3 linked regions of the Homo sapiens genome follow. The protein of the gene in region 2 purifies or fractionates together with the protein of the main gene of each other region. This does not show direct contact. Each region holds a gene or a part of one and is shown on either strand. Other genes may lie near its edges.

Region 1 (7,026 bases), on a different chromosome or scaffold from region 2:
ACACAGAATCCAGCATCACACTGTGCCAGATGCACATCCAGGTTCAGTTCTAGAAAACTTACAATAAGCTATTCTGTGAAAACACAGTCAGTGGGTTCTGTATCTGCAGATATGCAAGGTTGACTGTACTGGGTCATTTTATATCAGAGACTTGAATACCCACAGACTTTGGTATCTGTGGGGATCCTGTAACCAATTCTTCTTGGATACTGAGGGATGACTGTACAAAACCACAGTGAAATGAAAAACTCTGGGAGTTAAGTATTATCTTAATACAGAAAGGCAACAGAGCAGTAGAAAGTGCAAGTCTTTGGGGTCATGTCCTAATTCTGTTATTTTTCCAGCTCTATGCCTGTGGGCAAGTTAAATGTTCTGAGCCTCAGTCTTCTCATCTACAAAGTAGGGATAATATATCTATTTTCAGAGTTGCAATGATTGAGCCAAATAAAGTATGCAAACCGCCTGGTACGTTGCCAGACATGTAAGAATTAAAAAATAAAAACTCTTCATTAACACTGCTTCACAGAGACACTGTTTTATCACACCTTTCCCATCTGTAATTATATGTTTTGGGAAACAAAGTAACCTAGGCTGTATTTATCTAGGTTATAACATGGTCCAACAGTACTGCCTGAATTGTGAGTTACATTATATATTTTATTTCACCATGGTAGTTTACAGGTTAGACTTTTTATTTATTTATTTTTTGAGACAGAGTCTCACTCTGTCCTGTCGCCCAGGCTGGAGTGCAGTGGTGTGATCCTGGCTCACTGCAAGCTCCGCCTCCCAGGTTCATGCCATTCTCCTGCCTCAGCCTCCGGAGTAGCTGGGACTACAGGCGTCTGCCACCACGCCCGGCTAATTTTTTGTATTTTTAGTAGAGACAGGGTTTCACCGGGTTAGCCAGGATGGCCTCGATCTCCTGACCTCGTGATCTACCTGCCTCAGCCTCCCAAAGTGCTGGGATTACAGGCGTTGAGCCAAGGTGCCCAGCCTTTATTTTTTAAATCCATTAAAAATATCGATCTTCAAAACCCAATCTTTTTTTTTGGAGACAGAGTCTCACTCTGTCTCCCAGGCTGGAGTGCAACGGCGCGATCTCAGCTCACTGCAACCTCCGCCTCCCGGGTTCAAGTGATTCTCCTGCCTCAGCCTCCCAAGTAGCTGGGATTACAGGTGCCTGCCACCGTGCCTGTCTAATTTTTGTATTTTTAGTAGAGACAGGGTTTCGCCATGTTGGCCAGGTTGGTCTCAAACTCCTGACCTCAGGTGATCCACCTGCCTCAGCCTCCTAAAGTGCTAGGATTACTGACATGAGCCACCATGCCCGGCCAAAACCCCCAAGTTTTAGAAATAATAATACATTCTCACCTCTTCAAGGGAAGATTCCAAATTCATTCCAAAAGCAACTCCCATTAGTCCAAAGAGCGAAAGAGAGAAGGTTCCCATGGTCAGCTGTAGATTCAACCTCATCATCACGTTTCGGTGGCTGGAGAGGAGAACACCTATTCAGATTAGAAGGGCCCACTAACTATATACAGCACATTCATCAAATCTATACAGACCACATGGATGAAACCTACACAACAAAAAAAATAATAATAATGTAGTATAGATGATAATGATGGCGTAATTCCTCACAAAATATTTCCTTAAAAACTTTCTTATAATTATTTTATTAAAAAAACTTAGTTTTATATAATGCTTTCTTACCTGTCCAGATTAATGAAAATAATACTTTGTGAATCATCAATCAGCACCCTAAGCTCACGAGCTGCATTGGAGAGATCGTCAGCCAATCGGTAGTAGTTTTCCAACAGCAACTCCATCTCTTCTGCATGGTCAATCCCAGCACTGCTCTTTTCACTTCAATTAAAAGAGAAAATAATTAACATACTCCCAACATGTGTATCATATACTTAGTGACAAAAACTTCCTAAATTAGTATATAGCATTCAGCTACCAGTGGAAAAGCTAGCCTTTGTCTTGTCTTGTCTTTTTTTTTTTTTGAGATGGAGTTTCACTCTGCTCCCAGGCTGGAGTGTAGTGGCGCGATCTCGGCTCACTGCAACCTCTGCCTCCCAGGTTCAAGCTGTTCTCCTGCTTCAGCCTCCCCAGTAGCTGGGACTACAGGTGCCCGCCACCACGCCCAGCTAATTTTTGTATTTTTAGTAGAGATGGGGTTTCACCATATTGGACAGGCTGGTCTCGAACTCCTGACCTTGTGATCTGCCTGCCTCGGCTTCCCAAAGTGCTGGGATTACAGGCATGAGCCACAGCGCCTGGCTGCCTTTGTCTTTTCTATTGTTGTGGCCAATCTGTGAGTACCTATGTCAACTGATCCAAAACACTTTACAGATGAGTTGAGGACAGAGGTTCCATCCTTATGTAGACCAGTTGGTGTCACTGTATTACATGGCCCCAATCCAAGAGATTTTTATGCAGATACATGCTGCCAGTTACAGGAAAATCCAGATATGTGAATGCAGATGAATTAGTGCAAAGCCAATACCACTATCAGGTAAAACAAAATCCACAACTAAAAATGTCAAGACCATTTCCTTTTGAGGTGTGTACATAATGTGATTTCATATAAAGAAAATGTTTTTGAATGATATCAGTAATAACTTTGCTCCCCTACCCTACCAAGAAGGGTAAGGGGGAATGAAGTACTCTGAAGAGGTACCTGTATCATAAAGCATATTAGAGACAGATTGACAGATTGGCCTAAGCAAAGCAAACAGTTTCTGCTACCATACCTATCGGCTATCTACCAAATGTTATATAGCCCCCTTTATCTTATTATTTCCTTATCAGGATATAAATAACCAATTTTTCAAAGTGCTGTAAGAAAATCTGTACAGACTGTGGAAACTAAACTCATTACAAAGGTGTATTAATTTCTGATACTGCTCTAGAAAGACAATAACAAAATATTTGGGTATTTAAAAGTAAACATTTAGCTGGAGTGTGCACAAGAAGCATAAACAATTTCTAAATTCATAAAAGATAAAAGGTTTATAAGATTAACATTTTCATTAGACTGAACTTACATAATCCATGTTAATGTGTTACTCGTGTATTTACCCCATCTTTTCCCTCCCCCATGTAAATTTCTCTCCCACTCTGCTTCCTAGGTAAGTTATTTTGGTAGATGTATATGCCAATCTGGTGGTCAGTCCCTTGAATATAAAGGTAACTGTGTGTTTATATTCACCACATGTCAGCAGTGTTGGGTATGCAGTATGCATACTCATAGAATTACATTGAATTAGATACGATACTGCACAGGAAAAAAGGGAAACTGGGGATGAAAAATCTCTATATTCTGTAGTCCAGAAAAATGTTACATTCTGTATGAAAAATCACCTTGAAGTGGAAAAGGCAAAAGATTTACTCTAAGGAAATAAATAACAAAGTATAATTATATACTTACAAGACTTGTGGGTCACTCCATTTTGATACACAGAGCTCTTCTAGCAACTCTTCCTCATCCAAGATCTCCAAAATTGACTCTTTGAAAATTTTAATATCTGTTTCTAACTCTGATAGACTATAAGAAATAGATACACAAAAATGATCAATAGAATAAACTTATAAGAACATTTCATAATAGTGTTTTTAGAGTATCTTATCAAATATATTATCTTATACATTCATGCTAAACAATGACTTATTTAAAAAAAAAAAAAAAGTTGAGTATTTACCAGGCAAATTAAGAATCAATTTGGCCAGGCATGGTGTCACGCCTGTAATCCTAGCACTTTAGGAGGCCAAGGCAGGAGGATTGCTTGAGCTCAGGAGTTTGAGACCCTCCTGGACAACAGTGAGATCTTGTCTCTACAAAAAAATTTAGAAAATTAGCTGGGCATGGTGGCATGTGCCTGCAGTCCCAGCTACTTGGGTGGTGGAGGTGGGAGGATTGCTGAAGGTTAAGGCTGCAGTGAGCTGAGACTGCACCACTGCACTCCAGCCTGGGCAACGGAGTGAAACCCCGTCTCAAAAACACCCACAAAAAACCCAAACCAAGGCTGCAGTGAGCTGAGACTGCACCACTGCACTCCAGCCTGGGCAACGGAGTGAAACCCTGTCTCAAAAACACCCACAAAAAACCCAAACCAGATCTAAATTAATTGGTAAAATTATCAGTGATATAAATTTCATCATACATTACTTATCTCAGAAACATAAATCGCTTGTGAATTTAAGATTTTTGGTTTGGGAATTTTATTAATCAACATGGCAGTGATAATATAGAACAGACTAGTTACTCTTAACTGATAAAAACACTCCAACATTTTTGGATAAGAAACTACTGATTCAGGAATTTTAAATGTTAATTCTTGAAGGGATTTCGGGAGTATAACTCCTGAGAGCATGTTTATTCTATTTATGATACATATATAATATTGTTATTAAATTCTGGAATGCATTATGATTTTAAAGAAAAAGAACAACATGGACTTTGAATTTGGATTTAGATCTGCCATTTACTAGCCATATAAATTTAGGCAAGTTACTCAAACCTCAATTTTCTCATCTTCAAAATGAAGACAATATCAACTATTGAATGGGTGATGAGATGAGATCACATACGGAAAAGAGCCTTACATGACATTTCATGCAAAGTATCTTTTCAACAAACAGTAGATTGTGTGCCCCTTTTAGCTCAACTTCCCACCTAGGCTACTTTCATACTTTAAAAAAAGTTATGAAACAAAATGTTAATAATTGATTTTAAGATATTTGTCTCCAACTCCCAATGTGATACATCATCCATATTTACCTTTTGCCATTCTGTAGTAAAATGTGCAGTTTGCTTCTGTCTACAGAAGAATGTTTGGGGTCCACCAAAGCATCCAAGGTCTCAAGGATCAGTGGCTGCAAAATGCTAAGTTTCCCCTGAAGGGTGTTGATCTAGATAACAACATGACCTTTCATAAGAATTAAAACAATCTTTTTAGAATATTCAGGATCAGTGAATCCTCTGATTAAATACAGAAATCTGTAGTAGCTTGAAATGCTGGTAACATTTCAGAACATAGATAATTCTAGAATGCCTATTCCAGATGATTCAAAAACTAGATCCTCTGGGTTCAAAGAACTATGTATGATGTTATCTTTAGGCACAGATTTGGTTGACAAGGAGCTAACTCTCGTAAGAGTCTTTCTCCTCCCGCCCGGCCAGCCGCCCCGTCCGGGAGGTGAGGGGCACCTCTGCCCGGCCGCCCCGTCTGGGAAGTGATGAGCCCCTCTGCCCAGCCGCCACCCCGTCTGGGAGGTGTACCCAACAGCTCATTGAGAACGGGCCACGATGATGATGGCGGTTTTGTCGAATAGAAAAGGGGGAAATGTGGAGAAAAGAAAGAGAGATCAGATTGTTACTGTGTCTGTGTAGAAAGAAGTAGACATAGGAGACTCCATTTTGTTCTGTACTAAGAAAAATTCTTCTGCCTTGGGATGCTGTTAATCTATAACCTTACCCCCAACCCTGTGCTCTCTGAAACATGTGCTGTGTCCACTCAGGGTTAAATGGATTAAGGGCGGTGCAAGATGTGCTTTGTTAAACAGATGCTTGAAGGCAGCATGCTCGTTAAGAGTCATCACCACTCCCTAATCTCAAGTACCCAGGGACACAAACACTGCGGAAGGCGGCAGGGTCCTCTTCCTAGGAAAACCAGAGACCCTTGTTCACATGTTTATCTGCTGACCTTCCCTCCACTATTGTCCTATGACCCTGCCAAATCCCCCTCTCCGAGAAACACCCAAGAATGATCAATAAATACTAAAAAAATTTAAAAAAAAAAGTCTTTCTCCTATAGACATTCATTATGAAGTAATGAGGGATCAAGTAAAATAAAATCTGCTATTATTAAAACACAAGCTTTCAGTAATACCTGTGTTCTCTGTAAACAGAATATGGTTCAAAATTCCTACAAAGCTCTTTGAAAATAAAAACTTGAGCTTTAAAACATAAACATATCAGAGTAAAGTCAAAAATAGACTATTTAGGTTAACACAAGTATGGTTTGATATTTGATATTCGGCAGGTATGCACTAATCCTGCTATATAGTTGTTAAAATACTGAAACACTTCCATGCCAGTTGGCAAATAGCATATACTAACTAAATCAAGCGGTAAAACTGATGACGTAAATTACAGCATATAGTCTTTATCTCAGAAGCACAATTACTGTGAAACAGATTTTTTTATTTGGAAACAAGTCCAGAGTCACAGTGCCTCTGCAGACATGTTGTTTATTTCGTCTCCAGAGGAACTGCTTCCGGGTTAAGAAGTCCTTGGGTGGGAGGGAAGACTGGACAGCCAAATAGGCAGACCACATCTTTTAATCTAAGAGATATCAAACCCTCTGCTCAGCAAGGTGTGGACTTTTGTAGTGGTTGGGGAGGCTGCTGAGGGTCACAGATAGGGTATTTGTGAGGCATATCTACTCATGGTATGTCTTGGTCCCTTAGGTGGGTTTGGGGAGCTTTCCCTTGTTCGAAAACTTATCCCTTTTGAGAGGTGGCTGGTCTTGCTTCTATGTAGTGTTGTTTCGTAAGGAAATCTTCCTGGGACCCCATTTAAAGGAAGAAGAATGTGTATCCCAGCAGACATCCTGAACTCCCTCTCTATTCTCCCCACAGCCAATCTCTAGGCCGGAGACCCATGCCAGCCTAGCCTCTCTCCTTCCCCTCCTGCTCCCTTTAAGATCCCTGTCTTTCTCCTAACAGCATGAGCTCCTGAGAGCTTACCCAGCCTGTGGAGCCCATGACTTACCACTGTTTACATCTTCTTTCTCTCTTCTGCTTTCCCCCTGCTTGGTAACTGGGCTCCCACTACTTATCATCTCACTGGCTGGTGCTAGCTGGTGCTCATTAATTACCCCAAGCAGGAAGTGTAGCCATCTATTCTTTCAGAGCAAGGCAGACAAAAGAAAAGTGTGCCAGGTTCACCCAACCCAATGCACCTCATGTCCTCTCTACCCTCTCTCCTCCTCCCACTCTGGTTAGTATGCTCCCAGC
Region 2 (7,283 bases):
AAAAAAGAAAAGGCCAGGTGAGGTGGCTCACGCCTGTAATCCCAGCACTTTGGGAGGCAGAGGTGGGTGGATCACCTGAGGGCAGGAGTTCGAGACCAGCCTAGCCAACATGGTGAAACCCCATCTCTACTAAAAATACAAAAAGTTAGCCGGGCATAGTGGCAGGTGCCTGTAATTCCAGCTACTTGGGTGGCTGAGGCAGGAGAATCGCTTGACTCCAGGAGGTGGAAGTTGCAGTGAGTCGAGATCGCACCATTGCACTCCAGCCTGGGCAACAAGAGCAAAACTCCGTCTCAAAAAATTAAAAAAGTAAAAAGAAAAAGACAACAGAGAAAACAAGGTTCTTCTCTACCTCAATCCTCTTAGCATCTCTGGGAGGAGAAACAGCTTTTGCTTCCCTGTATGGAGGTCTGGGGGGTTCTCACCTCAGCCCTGCCTCAGCAAAGGGGGCCTTGGAGAGCCCAGGGCAGCGGGGAGCAAGGTGCTGGCAGAAGAGGCTGCTGAGAGCCCAAGATCAGACTGTCCGCACCCCAGGCCAGCTCTTGCGGTGGATTCTGGGACCTCCCTGCAGGCCGCTGCAGAGGTTCGGGCCCCTGAGCCCATCTCGGGCCGCCCACAATGTCTAGATGGTCACTTTTTAGGCCGTCACCCACATTCCTGGAATATCTCTGGATACAGCTGGAAGCCCACAGGCGGGTCCAGGTCCCCGCGGACAGGAGTCAGGGTCACAGACAGCCCCCCAGGGCGCCGGCCCCTACGCCCCTCGCCCCCGGGCCGATGGACCCATTGGTGCTTGGCCATGCCGGTCTTCAGGCCGAAGCAGCGGCCACACTGCGGGCAGCGGTAGGGCTTCTCGCCAGTGTGAACGCGCAGGTGAGAAGTCAGCGCCGTGCGGCGCATGAAGGCCCGACCACACTCGGGACAGCGGTGGGGCCGCTCCCCACGATGGATGGCCCGGTGTTTGCTCAGGGAGGAAGCGTGGCCGAAGCCCTTGCCGCAGTCTGCGCAGTGGAAGGGCTTCTCGCCCCTGTGGCTGTAAATGTGCTCCACCAGTGTGGAGCGCCAGGCGAAGCTCTTCCCGCACACGTAGCAGCCGTGACGCTGGTCAGCTCGGGGGACAGGGGGGTGGGCAAAAAAGCGGGGGCGACTCCGGCGCCGGGCCTTGGACAGCTGCTCCAACCCGGCAAAGGGGGCTTGGGGAGCCTTCAGCCCAGGAGACCCGGCGGCCACAGGGTCGGGCTTCTCCAGGGCTCCCGTCCCTTCCCTTTGTCTTTCCTCTTCCTTGTTTCTGGAATCTGCTGAAAGATAAGGAGGCGAGAGTTCAGGCTTGGCTCATCCTGGTCATTGAATCCCACAGCCCGCGTGGACAGGGACAGGCCTGCTGGACCCCCGACTGCTCCTAGGAGATGGAGGAGTGACACCTGTTCCTCGGCTGCAGAGCCAGACAGAGCCTGGAGGGAGGGAACAGTCCATTCCGCCTCCGGGCTGGGGAAATGTCACCGCGGGGGAAGGGCAGAGATGACGTGAACATCTGGGCCTGATCTGGAATAAGAAGCGGACACCTGGGGATATTCCAGGCAGAAGGAACAGCACCAAGAAAGGCAGAACCAGGAGGGCATGGCCAAGTTCAGTGGGGCTGGATACTCTGCAAAAGCTGAGGCAAGAACTAAAGGAAGGAAATGGGAGGGCGGGATGTGGGGGCATAGGAACCATAGTGCAGGAAAACGACTGGAGCGGGTCATGATGTGGAGGTAGAGTCAACAGAACCTAGAGGCCGGGTGCAGTGGCTCATGCCTGTAATCCCAGTGCTTTGGGAGGCCGAGATAGAGGATCGCTAGAGTTCGAGACCAGCTCGGGCAACACACCAAGACCTCTACCTCTTTAAAATTTTTTTAATTAAAAAAAAAAAAAAAAAACCAGCCAGGCGTGGTGGCGAGTGCCTTTACAGTGTTAGGTACTCTGGAGGCCCACGCGGGAGGATTGGTTGAGCCGATTGCTTGAGCCCGGGAGTTCAAGACTGCAGTGAGCTATGATGGCGCCACTGCACCTCAGCCTGGGCAACAGAGACCCTGTCTCTAAAACAAAACAAAACAAAAAAGTCCCCGGAGTGTAGTGACCACGCAGAGGTGAGGACTCAGGGGCGGGTATGGCAGGGCCAGAGCCCCCATCACAGCCCCTTTCTAGGCTGCATCCCGGAGCCAGGCAGGGGCTCAGCCTCCTGGCCGCAGTTGAGGAGGCAGTTCAGAGAGGAAACTGCTAAGCAGGTAGCTGGAGGTGGCAGAGGGTACCGGGATGGGACAGGAACAGAGAAGTCCCCATGGGACTGAGCACCCGATACTCCACCTGGGTCCGCTTCTGTCGGACACTTCGCCACCTCCGGATCCTGGGCAGCCGGATCCCACAGTTCGGCCTTCTCCTCCACCCAGGAGATGAGCGCCGGCTTGCTGCCTCCGACTCCTGGGGGAGAAGAACGCAAACCCCACGCTGCGAGGAGGCCGCCTGCCCGGCCCCGGGGCCCCCAACTCCACACGCAGCTCCCAGAGGCGCGGCAGGGCCTGTGGAGGCGCAGGGCCCAGGCAAGCAGGTGGGGCTCTCACCGAGCGCGCCCAGGTGGCCGTAGGTCTCCCGCATCACGTCCCGGTACAGGGCCCTCTGCGCGGGCCGCAGGCAGCCCCACTCCTCCCGGGAGAAGTACACGGCCACGTCGGCGAAGCTCACGGCCCCGGGCTTTCTCCACTCGGATCCCGCCCCGTTTGGGTCCCGGGGAGGGAGCGGGGCCAGAGGCGGCGCCATGGGGACTGTCAGCCCCAGCGACGGATCGGTCATCTCCCCTGGCCAGGCCTGGGCATGCGGAACCTCCCGCGCCCGAGAACACTTCCCCGGCCCGGTACCAAGGGAAGGAGGGACGTCAGTAGAGCCCCCGAAGGCCCACTAGAGGGGATGGAAACTAAGGGCCGATGGCTGCGAGTCCATGGTCAGAACTGGACGATGTCTTCAAATAAAACGGCGGCAGCGCGACCTCTCGACCTTTGCCCCTGCGCAATTGTACCCACGACGACGCCCCCCTCCCCGCGCCCCCGCTCCAGGCCCAGTTCTCTCCTTGCCCTAATCCAAAATGGCCGTTGCGGCTACAGGCGCCGGCCTTGAAAACCAGCCGCGCATGCTCCGGCCCCGCCAGGTGAGGCGGCGCAGCTCAGAGCTTCCGCCCGGGTTTGCGGGAACAAAGCAGCGCCCTGCGGAAGGCAGCCCTCGTGAACTCAGAAGTTAGTTTTCGTCTCTGGACCTTTTTATAATCGGACTTCAGCCCATCACTGTCTCGTTTTGTCCTCAGAAACGGCGACAGCAGCCTCTTCCCAATGTTGAGAGCAAAAAGTGTGAACCCAGAAATTCCGAGACAGATCTCAATTACTTGCCAAGGTTGAGGACGCGCGCGTGACAGCCTCAGGAAGTCCTCACGACATGTGCCCAAGGTGGTCTGGGCATAGCTTAGTTTTATACATTTTATGGAGACATGAGACATCAATAAATGTATGTAAGAAGTACATTGGTTCTGTTTGGAAAGGCGGGGCAACTTGAAGCAAAGGCAGGAAGACGTGAAGCAGGAAGGGGGCTTCCAAGAAACAGAAGGTGAGGCACAAACGGTTGCATTCTTTTGAGATTCTGATTAGCGTTTCCAAAGGAGGCAATCAGATATGCATCTGTGTCAGCCAGCAAAGGGGTGACTTTGAATAGACTGGGAGGCAGGTTGGCCCTAAGCAATTCCCAGCTTGACTTTTTCCTTTAGCGTAGTGATTTGGGGGGGTCCCAAGATTTATTTTCCTTTCACAAAAGCCATGGAGTGGATACAGGAGAACCTCCTCTATTGTAGGCTTTTTGGAGCTTGAAATTCTGGGAGCTTCTAGATGGCGGAAGCAGCGGGGAGAATAGGGTAAGGCTGAGAAAGTCAGAGGGCCCTCTCTTCTAGGAGCTTCTCCCATGTGCTGTGCAGGACGCCTCCCGACCGCCTGTCTCCCTCTAGCTGCAGCCAGGCTCTTGGCTTCCCTGACGTCCTGCCCCTGCGCGGATGGCCCAAGGCTCCTAGGCTCAAACCCAGCTCATCCCTTTCTTACCCCAACCTGCTTCCCCTGGGGTCTTTATCTCAGTAAAAGTCGCCAGCTCTCCCCTGAGACCTCCTTCTCACACTTCCTGATGGCCTACTCTGTGCTCCACGTGACTTCATACATGTCCTGTGTACTGGAGTCAGAGTCACCTCCAACGCGCCTTTTAGCTCTTAGTGGGTTCTTTAGTTGAATCTAGGCCCAGATTGAGAATCGCCTGTAATCCTGGCGCCTGGGAGGTCGGGGCAAGAGGATTCCTTGAGTCCAAGAGAATGAGATCAGCCTGCTCAACTTAGGAGACCCTATCTCAAAAATAAATAAGAAAAAATGAATCGACAGCAGACAGACTAACAGGAGGAAAGAATACAAATTGTACCTGTTTTACATGTACTCAGGCATCTTCACAAGAGAGAGCAGTCAGAAAAAGTGGCTGAAGCCAGGTGCTTTTATATTTCTTTTCTTTTTTTTTTTTTTGCAGAGACAAGTGAACATTTATTTTTATGTCTTTCTTCCTATGTGTATTTCAAGTCTTTTTCAAAACAAGGCCCCAGGACTCTCCAGATTCAATTATGTCCTTGGGCTTGGTCGACTGCTGCAGGAGTCTTAAGGAGCCTTGTGCAAATGCTAGAGTGACTCATTTACCAACATTAAACCCTAGGATAGATGCAACAGAGAAGTACTACTTCCTCCATGGAATGTGCTGATTTCAGGCGACGTGGCACCCAATGTAGAAAACGCTGGAATTTTTCCTTGGAACTGGACTGTGATGAGAGGTGCTTGCCATGAACATAAGCTACTGTCTTTTTTTTCTTTTTTTGAGACGGACTTTCACTTTTTTTGCCCAGGCTGGAGTGTAATGGCGCGATCTTGGCTCACCGCAACCTCCGCCTCCCAGGTTTGAGTGATTCTCCTACCTTAGCCTCCTGAGTAGCTGGGATTACAGGCGTGCGCCACCATTCCCAGCTAATTTTTGTATTTTTAGTAGACACAGTGTTTCTCCATGTTGGTCAGGCTGGTCTCAAACTCCTGACCTCAGGTGATACGCCCGCCTCAGCCTCCCAAAGTGTTGGGATTACTGGCGTGAGGCATCGTGCCCAGCAAGCTACTGTCTTTTCTTTGACCCTTTCCAGTTTTTGAAGATAAAGCAGGAAATAATCTTCTCTGAAAGTACTTGATAAAAATTCCCAAAACAACAAAAACACATGCTTCCACTTCATTGATAAAAATTTACTGCGGTTTGGCACCTGGGTCTAGTTCAGCTGGCAGATGAGCTGATTGATGCGTTAACCCCCACAGCCAGGTGTGCCCATCTCCTTGAGGAAGCCCACTCTATTTTTGGTAGCATGACGGGCCACTGAAAGGTGGAAAGGGCGCAAGAACCATGAGATCTCCTGGAAATGCTTCCCTGGGAAGGCAATTTCATGAATGAGGTCTTCCAAGCAAATGACGCCAAACTTCCCCAGGTCCTCCTCAATCACTGTGTTGTCTGTCAGAGGGATGGTCTTATTCTTTTTTTTTTTTTTTTTTTGAGACAGAGTTTCGCTCTGTCGCCCAGGCTAGAGCGCAGTGGTGCAATCTCGGCGCACTGCAAGCTCCACCTCCCAGGTTCACGCCATTCTCCTGCCTCAGCCGCCCAAGTAGCTGGGACTACAGGCGCCCACCACCGCGCCGGACTAATTTTTTGTATTTTTAGTAGAGACGGGGTTTCACTGTGTTAGCCAGGATGGTCTCGATCTCCTGACCTCATGATCCACCCATCTTTGGCCTCCCAAAGTGCTGGGATTACAGGCGTGAGCCACTGCGTCTGGCCGATGGTCTTATTCTTGACCTTGGCTTGTCCATGTTTCAAAATGAATTCCCAGACAGACTTCAGATTTGGAAATCCTCAGGTCACATAAGGTTCCACTATACGCAGCATTTTTAAAAAGACACCACTAAAAATTTTCTTCAGGCAAAGTCTTGCAATGGTTCTCTGCACCAGTAAACTCCCGCCATCAATCCTTTTGATGCGTACAACAAAGGCCAAGGAACATTTATCCGGCAATTCCAAGGCGTGAGGTTGCACTTCTAGTTGTCTTGAGATGCACCTTGTCACGTTTCTCCTGCCAGGAATCATGTAGGAATGATTCCAGTCACTTAAACCTGAGCCCTTTTCCTTTCCTCTGCTCCTTTGCCAAAAATGCCTGCTTTGCCTGGGTGGCTTTGAGGGCTTGATAAGCCTTCCTATTTTTCAGGAGATTTTCTGGAACCAAAGGAATTTTTCTGTGCTCTTGCTCTGCCATCTTTCTAGTGGTGCAGCTACTGATCATTATATTTCTTTCTTTTTTTATTTTGAGACGGAGTCTCACTTTGTCACCCAGGCTGGAGTGCAGTGGCGCGATCTCAGCTCACTGCAAGCTCTGTCTCCCGGGTTCACGCCATTCTCCTGCCTCAGCCTCCCGAGTAGCTGGGACTACAGACGCCCACCACCACGCCTGGCTAATTTTTCTGTATTTCTAGTAGAGACGGGGTTTCACCGTGTTAGCCAGGATGGTCTCAATCTCCTGACCTCGTGATCCGCTCATCTCTGCTTCCCAAAGTGCTGGGATTACAAGTGTGAGCCACCACGCCCGGCCTGTATTTCTTAAATAACCATAATTTTTTTTTTTTTTTTGAGATGGAGTTTTGCTCTTATTGCCCAGGCTGGCGTGCAATGGCGCAATCTCTGCTCACTGCAACCTCTGCCTCCCGGGTTCAAGCGATTCTTCTGCCTCAGCACCCCGGGTAGTTGGGACTACAGGCATGCACCACCACACCCGGCTAATTTTGGATTTTTAGTAGAGATAGGGTTTCACCATGTTGGTCAGGCTGGTCTTGAACTCCTGACCTCAGGTGATCCACCCACCTTGGCCTCCCAAAGTGCTGGGATTACAGGCGTGAGCCACTGCACCTGGCCAAGAACAATAAATTTTAAAAGAAATGACAGGACGAAGAAAATCTGGCTAGGGCAGTAAAATTTTCAAGGGGAGATCTGTGTGGGTTGGGGGGGCATCAAACAGGTGGAAGATATGGATTACTTTGTTAAGTGTGTTTATTCTGGTCCCTTGGGGCCTCTAAGGGCTATTTTCTCACCCTGGGGAGAGGAGGCAAAAAGTTTGGGAGGGGCATAAGGATTCATTGTTGCCCAGGGGGTGTGTTCCCAGCCCT
Region 3 (7,026 bases), on a different chromosome or scaffold from region 2:
GAGATAGGAGAATGGCTTGCAGGAGAATCGCTTGAATCCGGGAGGCGGAGGTTGCAGTGAGCCGAGATCATGCCATTGCACTCCAGCCTGGGTAACAAGAGTGAAACTCTGTCTCAAAAAACAAAAACAAAAACAAAAAACAAACAAAAAACCATAAATTCACAGTTCAGTGGCAATTTTAAATGGAAAGACACGCCTTATTCACTATGATGCTTTTATTGCTAATTCATTCAGTGAAGAGGAATTATGCAAGGTTTAAAATGGCTTGCCTGTCCTGGTATATCCAAAACTCTTAATTCAGAAGATTCATCTATTTCTCCAAGAGAAGAAGCTCGTGGTGGGGCTGGAGGAGGTTCAGGCTCAAGATCAAAGTCCAATTTGGTTACTGTAGAATCACTTATAGAAGATAAAGTAACTCACCAAAACAGTAATAGAAAGTCTGTATTTTAAACAGCTTTAAAATTAAAGCAAACAATTTACTTTTTAAGTAAACAGAACACTACTTTCAAAATACTACTTGGGAAAAAAGCAAGACTCAGTACACCTGCTATAATCAGTACGTAAGAATGTCCCAATAACTTTGTATAAGAGATGCTTAAAATCTCAGACACATACCTAGCTGGAGGTGCTAGTTGAGGGATGCGTACATCAACCACTGGCACTGTAGTAGGCACAGGAGCTTGAGGGCTGAAGGTGCCAGAATGATTTACTGTAGGAATAGCTCTTCTTACTAGCCTTCCCCAAGTGGCAATATTAATATTCATTTGAGGAGCTCTGAGAAATGTTTTGCCTGTAGATGTTGAAAAAAACAAAAACAGCAAGTAATTTCTTTATGTATAACCAAAAGTCATAATTTAAAAATTCTTATCCATTAGTTTATAATCTACGAAGAACAAACAAAATTTGTCACTTAAAAAAACTAGTTTTTTACTATTTGCTAGTAAAGGCTAATGCAAAATAGCATACGTAGTTTTAAAAATAAATAGGTAAGAAATTGTTTTTTTCTCTTTAAGTCTAGTAGTAAGGTTTTAAAAATAAATCTTATCTTTTAGATATAAATTATAATAATTATGAATACATCAATATGATGTCTGGGTTTGCTTCAAATTTGAGAAAGTAGTGAGAGGATGGCATATGGATAAAATAAAATTGGCCATGAGTTGATTATTGTTGAAGCCGGGTGACTGTACATTTCACTAGTCTCTCCACTTATGGATACATTTAAAATATTCCTTAATAAGAAGTTAGAAATAAATGAATAAACAACAACAAAAAAACCCACACAGATGGCTATTACTTTTTAAATGGTAATTAGATTGTTTAAGAAAATATCAAAATGCTATGCATTTGATTGTTAGTAATTACCTTGTTGCTTTGAAAAAATTTTCTTTTGTCTTTGAAGTTTTGGTCTTCTTTCAATAACTGGATTAAAAAAGGTAACCTGCAGTGAAGAAAATTCAAGTTGACATGAAAATAGCATGGTTCATGAAATCTACTAAATTTATAAAATTTTAAAGCTTAAGAGAATCTTAGTTACAGTTTAGTCCAGCCCCTCATTTTCTACATGAGAAAACAGACATAGGAAGAATAATTGATTTGTCTCAAAGTCACATACCTATTCAGTGGCATAGCTCAGCCAAGAACTCAAGTCATCTGTCTTTCAGCCTAACACTCTTTCTACTTCTATATTATGCTGCCTACATATGTAATTTCAATTGTAGTTATGCACATTTAATAAAATACATTTATTACCTCTGCAAATAAAGTACCCTGTGGTTCCAAATAGAGACACATGCCATGCCGTTGGTTGTCTAAAAAATCTTCTAACCTCAGAAATTTTACAGCACACAGAGACCGCCAATCACGCCAATAAACTGAAATTTCCAGTTCACGTGACTAGGATAATTAAAAAAAATAATAAAGAAAACAGAAAAGACATCATTGGACACACACTTGAATAAAATATCACAAAAAATATGAAATACAAATACAATAAACAAAAATTACACACACAAAGGTCACACTGTTTTAAAGAGGTTTGTAACATTTCTCAACTGTATAGTACTTTATCAAACTTACACATTTTAATTCAAAGAAACAAAACTTACATTGTGACATTTTCCAGCTAAGGTATTCCTAAAGTATACTTAAAGAATACACAACTGGGAACAACCAATACAGATGAATAACCACCGAAACTCCTTCTCTTAGAGCTTCAATCTTTCAGATTTCCCTCCTCTATTTGCCATCATGTGCTATGTTACTACCCCAATGCTTGCTTCAAATAACTCATTTGAAACCTTTGTATTTATTTGTCTCATTGCTAAGCCAGAAAAAGTTCTGCAAATAGCATTTATTCTGTACTCACAATGTGCCACATATTGTGCTAATAAGCACTTTAAGAATATTAGGTCATTTAATTTTCAAAAGAATACCACTGGGTAGCAAGACCCATTCTGCGTACGAAAGGAAGAAAGGGGAAATTCAGACCAAGCTTTATACAGAAAGATATTCATTTATTATAACAATAAAACATAATTTAAAAAGCAAATTAGCAAGAATTTGAATGTTCAAAAACCAGGGACAAGTTAATTATACCAAAGCCGTATGAGAGAATACACAGTAGACACTGAAAATAATGCTTATGTGGCGAAATATATTTAAGGTTTTAATAACCAGTGTTTAAATGCACCTGTAGAACATAGTTCCTAAGCTGTGGCCAAACCATATACTGACCTCTACCTATATGTTTTAACGTATATACATTTTAATCATAAAGTACTGGACTTTTCTATTATTTTGTTTTTCAGGCTTCTGTACACCATCCACAAAAAGAGATAAATGTTTCTCCTTTTAAGGCTCTACAAAGCAATAAATTACTTATTTTATATAACAAATTTCAATTTATAAACTTATGCATTTCATTATGTAACGTTTTGGTATAAACAGTAAAAAAAAATCTATTGACCTTAAATTATATATCTAGTTGATGTTAATGAACACGAAAAACACTTATAAAAAATGCAACATGAAAAGAATCAAAATACAATGTGCCAGAGGGTTTCACAGTCAAACAGGAAAAGAATTAGAAAAATACGTCTATGGCAGTGAGAATGTGATCTCAGGGCCTTCCACCTCATTTCTTCTCTCTGACTCATAATTAATATGGGAGAGAACTGTCATGAAAGAAGTATGAGGAGAATATAATTAAGACTAGCAAATGGCATATAGAAGGGATGGGGTACTAAGGCTATAATATTCTATTGAAGTTAAAAGTGTTAAGTATTTTGGAAGCAGTTATTTTGTGAAATAAACTGGAGGAAGAATCATGTCAGGATTGGTAATTTAGACTCCATTTTTTTAGATTGGAGGAAGAGAGGTCTACTTTCTCCTGCTTTCTTCCACTGTTACAAGGAAGACTTGTTATGCATCAGGAAGATGCAAGATGCACATACGCTAGAGACAGAATTAATACTTGTTAAAAGTTCTTATTACACTTTTACACTGGCTAAAATGGTAAGATTTTGTCTTATTGTGAATAAGAGAAGGTCCAATCACCTCATTTGCTATTTATTCCAGCCAGTCTGGTAAAACTAACATATTGACTAATTTCTCTTTCCTCTGTCTCTTCATTCCATGCTTCAAACTAAAGTACATTATAGGCTGGGCAAGGTGGCTCATGCCTGTAATCCCAGCACTTTGGGACGTTGACGTGGGTGAATCACTTGAGGTCAGGAGTTCGAGACTAGCAACGGCCAACATGGTGAAACCCCATTTCTACTAAAAATACAAAAGTTAGCCGGGCGTGGTGCACGCACCTGTGGTCCCAGCTACTTGGGAGGCTAAGGCATGAGAATCACTTAAACCCAGGAGGTGGAGGTTGCAGTGAGCCAAGATCATGCCACTACACTCCAGCCTGGGCAACAGAGCGAGACCCTGTCTCAAAAAAAAAAAAAAATTAAAATTTATAAAGTATGTTACAGATCTGAGATTTGGGATAAGTCACCTCACAGACCTTAAGCTAGCTTTCCTAGAATTCTATACTCTACATTAAAGTTTTATGTAGAAAGTAGAAAAGTTCCTCTTCAAAGCTCATCTTGATTTAAAAATAAAATAAAAGACACTAGGAATAATAGCTCCTTACTCTAAAGCCTCCTATCAACTATCAGTTCTTACGCTTTAGCCCAGTTAGTTGCTTTGGCTTACTCAAGCATGTCTGGACAGGCCCAGGCAAGTCTTAGCTCACAGCTTATGCCCCTTCCTTATTTGGAAATGTTGTTGCTTCCTTAAACCTTTCATAAGCAACTTCCTCTTCCTCTTTGTTCTCCTTTGCATTTACCTATTTAGGAAAGTTTTAGGTTATTAGCAAATCAGTAATCAGTTTAAGACTGTGAGGTCCAGCTCCAGCCAATGGATGCAGGACACAGCAGTAAGGACAACCCAAATGCATAAGGGATATATATGTCTGCTTTTCCTTTGTTCAGGTGTGCTCTCGCGATTGTTCCATTTGCGAGGGGCACGCTTTCTGCAGAAAGTAAAGATTGCCTTGCTGAGAGATCCTTTGTCTCCGTGCTGACTTTTCTTCACGGCACCGATTATCTGTTTCTAACATTTTACATATAAAGCTCTTCATTTTTTGTTACTTTGCACTGTTCCCAGTGAGCGTTACTTTCTTCACAACATAAGTGGGAGGGTGGGGCTGTGATCTAGAGATATTTTATGTTAGTACTCCACCACTTGTGTTCAATCCCACTTTAAATCCTAACATCCAGCATGGTTTGAATAAGTAAAACAGTCACATGGTATCTGAAAAACAAGGTACCATACAGATAGACTGAAGCTTCTGCATAAGAAGATGTCACTAATGTTTACCATTTATTTTTTATTATTTTTTGTTTTTTGAGATGGGGTTTCACTCTTATTGCCCAGGCTGGAGTGCAATGGTGCAATCTCAGCTCACTGCAACCTCTGCCTCCCAGGTTCAAGTGATTCTCCTGCCTCAGCCTCCTGAGTAGCTGAGATTACAGGCACCCACCACCACACATGGCTAATTTTTGTATTTTTAATAGAGATGGGGTTTTGCCATGTTGGCTAGGCTGGTCTCGAACTCCTGACCTCAGGTGATCCACCCGTCTTGGCTCCCCCAAAGTGCTGAGATTACAGTCGTGAGCCACTGTGCCTGGCCCAATGTTTAGAATTTAAAATGCAAGTGTGATTGCTGGTACGCCGGCAATTTTCTAGATGAAGCAGGTCAGTTACACAAGGCAAGGGCATGCTGTTAGATAATTTCAAACTCTAGGAGCAACGATATTCTAGACGGAGTAAAACTACCACCAAAAAAAGCTGAGCAGTACAAGTTGAGATAGGTACTGTCCCAACTTGTGTTTCAGTTTGTCTTATTATGAATTGAATCTAGAATCAAAGAGAAAACTGCTTGGTAGACTTAAAGAATCTGCATGTCTTATCTGAAGTCTAAGATCTGAAAGTAAACAAAAAAGGTAAGAGACACTGCATCAGCCTTATGTGTGGTAGAAAGCAACAAATTAAAACATGTATTGCAATTGAAAAAAGAACAGTACACATCTATCATAAAAGAATTAGCACAAAGAATGCTGAGGTTCTCGAAGTGTTCACTGAGGAGCCCTGGGGTGCCAGAGAGTATTTTCACTTTTCATAGGGAACACAGCGACATCTATGGGACACTGTGAGAACTACTAGCGAAAGGTAGTTCATAGTTTCAACATTAGAATATTCCATATTCCTTCTGGTGATGTCATAAACCCATCTTTGCTAAGGTGGGTTTTCAACAATAAAAAGCAACTTCCTATGAAGAATCACTGTGGAAGAAGACATGAGAGTGCAGTTATCCTTATGATCCCAAGATGTGGGAAGTTATATAGTGTACAACAGGCAGACATGTCCCATTAGTTAATTGTAATCATGTACTAATGGAATAAAAATATTACGTTTTCTCTCAGTATTTGTATTTTTCAAAAACTCCTGTTTTAAGACTTAAAATACTAACTAGTAAGCACTTCTTAATAAATGGAACTGTTGGGTATTTCTTTAGGTCTAGGGACACACTGCAGAAACATTACAAGGACACTGAGGACACTGAATTGAGAAAGTCTGGAAACTTTGATAGAAGTGGAGAGCTGGGCTCCACTGCTGAAATGAAAAGGGCAAAAGAAGAAAATGAGAACCAGGCTCCACCGCCAAAAAGAAAAGAAAGGTCAAAAAAGCTTTCTGTTGCCACTAAAAAACAGAATAAACTCAATACCTGGAAAATTCAAGAGCTGAGGAAAGATGAGATTTCTGCAAACGTGTACACGAGCGATGATATTGGTCTTCAATGTGCCTCTGAGGACAACATAGGCTTTGGAAATTTATCAGTGAGGGTCCTAGCAGCATGCAGATAGTACACTGAAAGAGTTTAACTAAAGAGAGTTTTTTAAATTGGCTACTTATGGAGATGTGATTAAAGTTAAACCAACAAGGAATGAAAAGAATCTGAGGACAAGCAACAGTAGAAATCCATTATCACTCTTAGCCTGAAGGGGCAAGAGGAACTTAAATCATTGCCAGAATCTGATTTAGACTAAATCTTAAAAAAGGAACTACCCGACAGGAGTTGGTGGCCATAGATGAATGCTGTTGTGAAAAGCAAGGCAAGGCAAGGAAGGAGAAAGGGAAATACACACTGCGACTTTCCTTTCCTCCTAGCTCTTGGATCTCTTAACAGTGTCTCTCATTGTAAGTCAGAGCCAAGTAATTCAAGTGAACTTTGTAGTCATCAGCCCAAAAACAGGGTAGGACAGGGAAGGAAGGACAATGGAATCCACTGGGGAAAAACAGAAAACCACCACCTCAAGAAACAATAATATATGTTTTCAGTTCAGCAGTCCAATGAGAGTGATTCTCCAGCTGGAACAAATGTGACAAAAAGAGGGAAACTTTGGGATCATATGGGAGGATGAGAAATACAGAGACAACAGTAGGAGACAGAGATAATGGAGACTATTAAGG

What was found. The genes of interacting proteins can lie anywhere in the genome.
Region 1: the proteins of ZNF747 (region 2) and MRS2 purify together in Homo sapiens (affinity purification with mass spectrometry; 2 studies listed by BioGRID and IntAct, with this or other methods). This does not show direct contact.
Region 3: the proteins of ZNF747 (region 2) and PKN2 purify together in Homo sapiens (co-immunoprecipitation; 2 studies listed by BioGRID and IntAct, with this or other methods). This does not show direct contact.

The regions. Positions count from the first base shown.
Region 1 is NC_000006.12:24,412,924-24,419,949, reverse strand, and holds part of MRS2 (magnesium transporter MRS2 homolog, mitochondrial isoform b precursor), read right to left. Parts: intron 4,935-7,026; exon of another isoform or gene 4,918-4,934; coding exon 4,787-4,917; intron 3,554-4,786; coding exon 3,437-3,553; intron 1,867-3,436; coding exon 1,714-1,866; intron 1,490-1,713; coding exon 1,372-1,489; intron 1-1,371. UniProt on the Homo sapiens protein: Magnesium transporter that mediates the influx of magnesium into the mitochondrial matrix and regulates magnesium metabolism. Also permeable to calcium, sodium and potassium ions.
Region 2 is NC_000016.10:30,531,854-30,539,136, forward strand, and holds the start of ZNF747 (zinc finger protein 747), read right to left. Parts: upstream 3,006-7,283; 5' UTR 2,827-3,005; coding exon 2,598-2,826; coding exon of another isoform or gene 2,458-2,597; coding exon 2,344-2,457; intron 1,299-2,343; coding exon 646-1,298; 3' UTR 1-645.
Region 3 is NC_000001.11:88,799,261-88,806,286, reverse strand, and holds part of PKN2 (serine/threonine-protein kinase N2), read right to left. Parts: exon of another isoform or gene 2,496-7,026; intron 1,897-2,495; coding exon 1,753-1,896; intron 1,442-1,752; coding exon 1,366-1,441; intron 791-1,365; coding exon 616-790; intron 397-615; coding exon 270-396; intron 1-269. UniProt on the Homo sapiens protein: PKC-related serine/threonine-protein kinase and Rho/Rac effector protein that participates in specific signal transduction responses in the cell.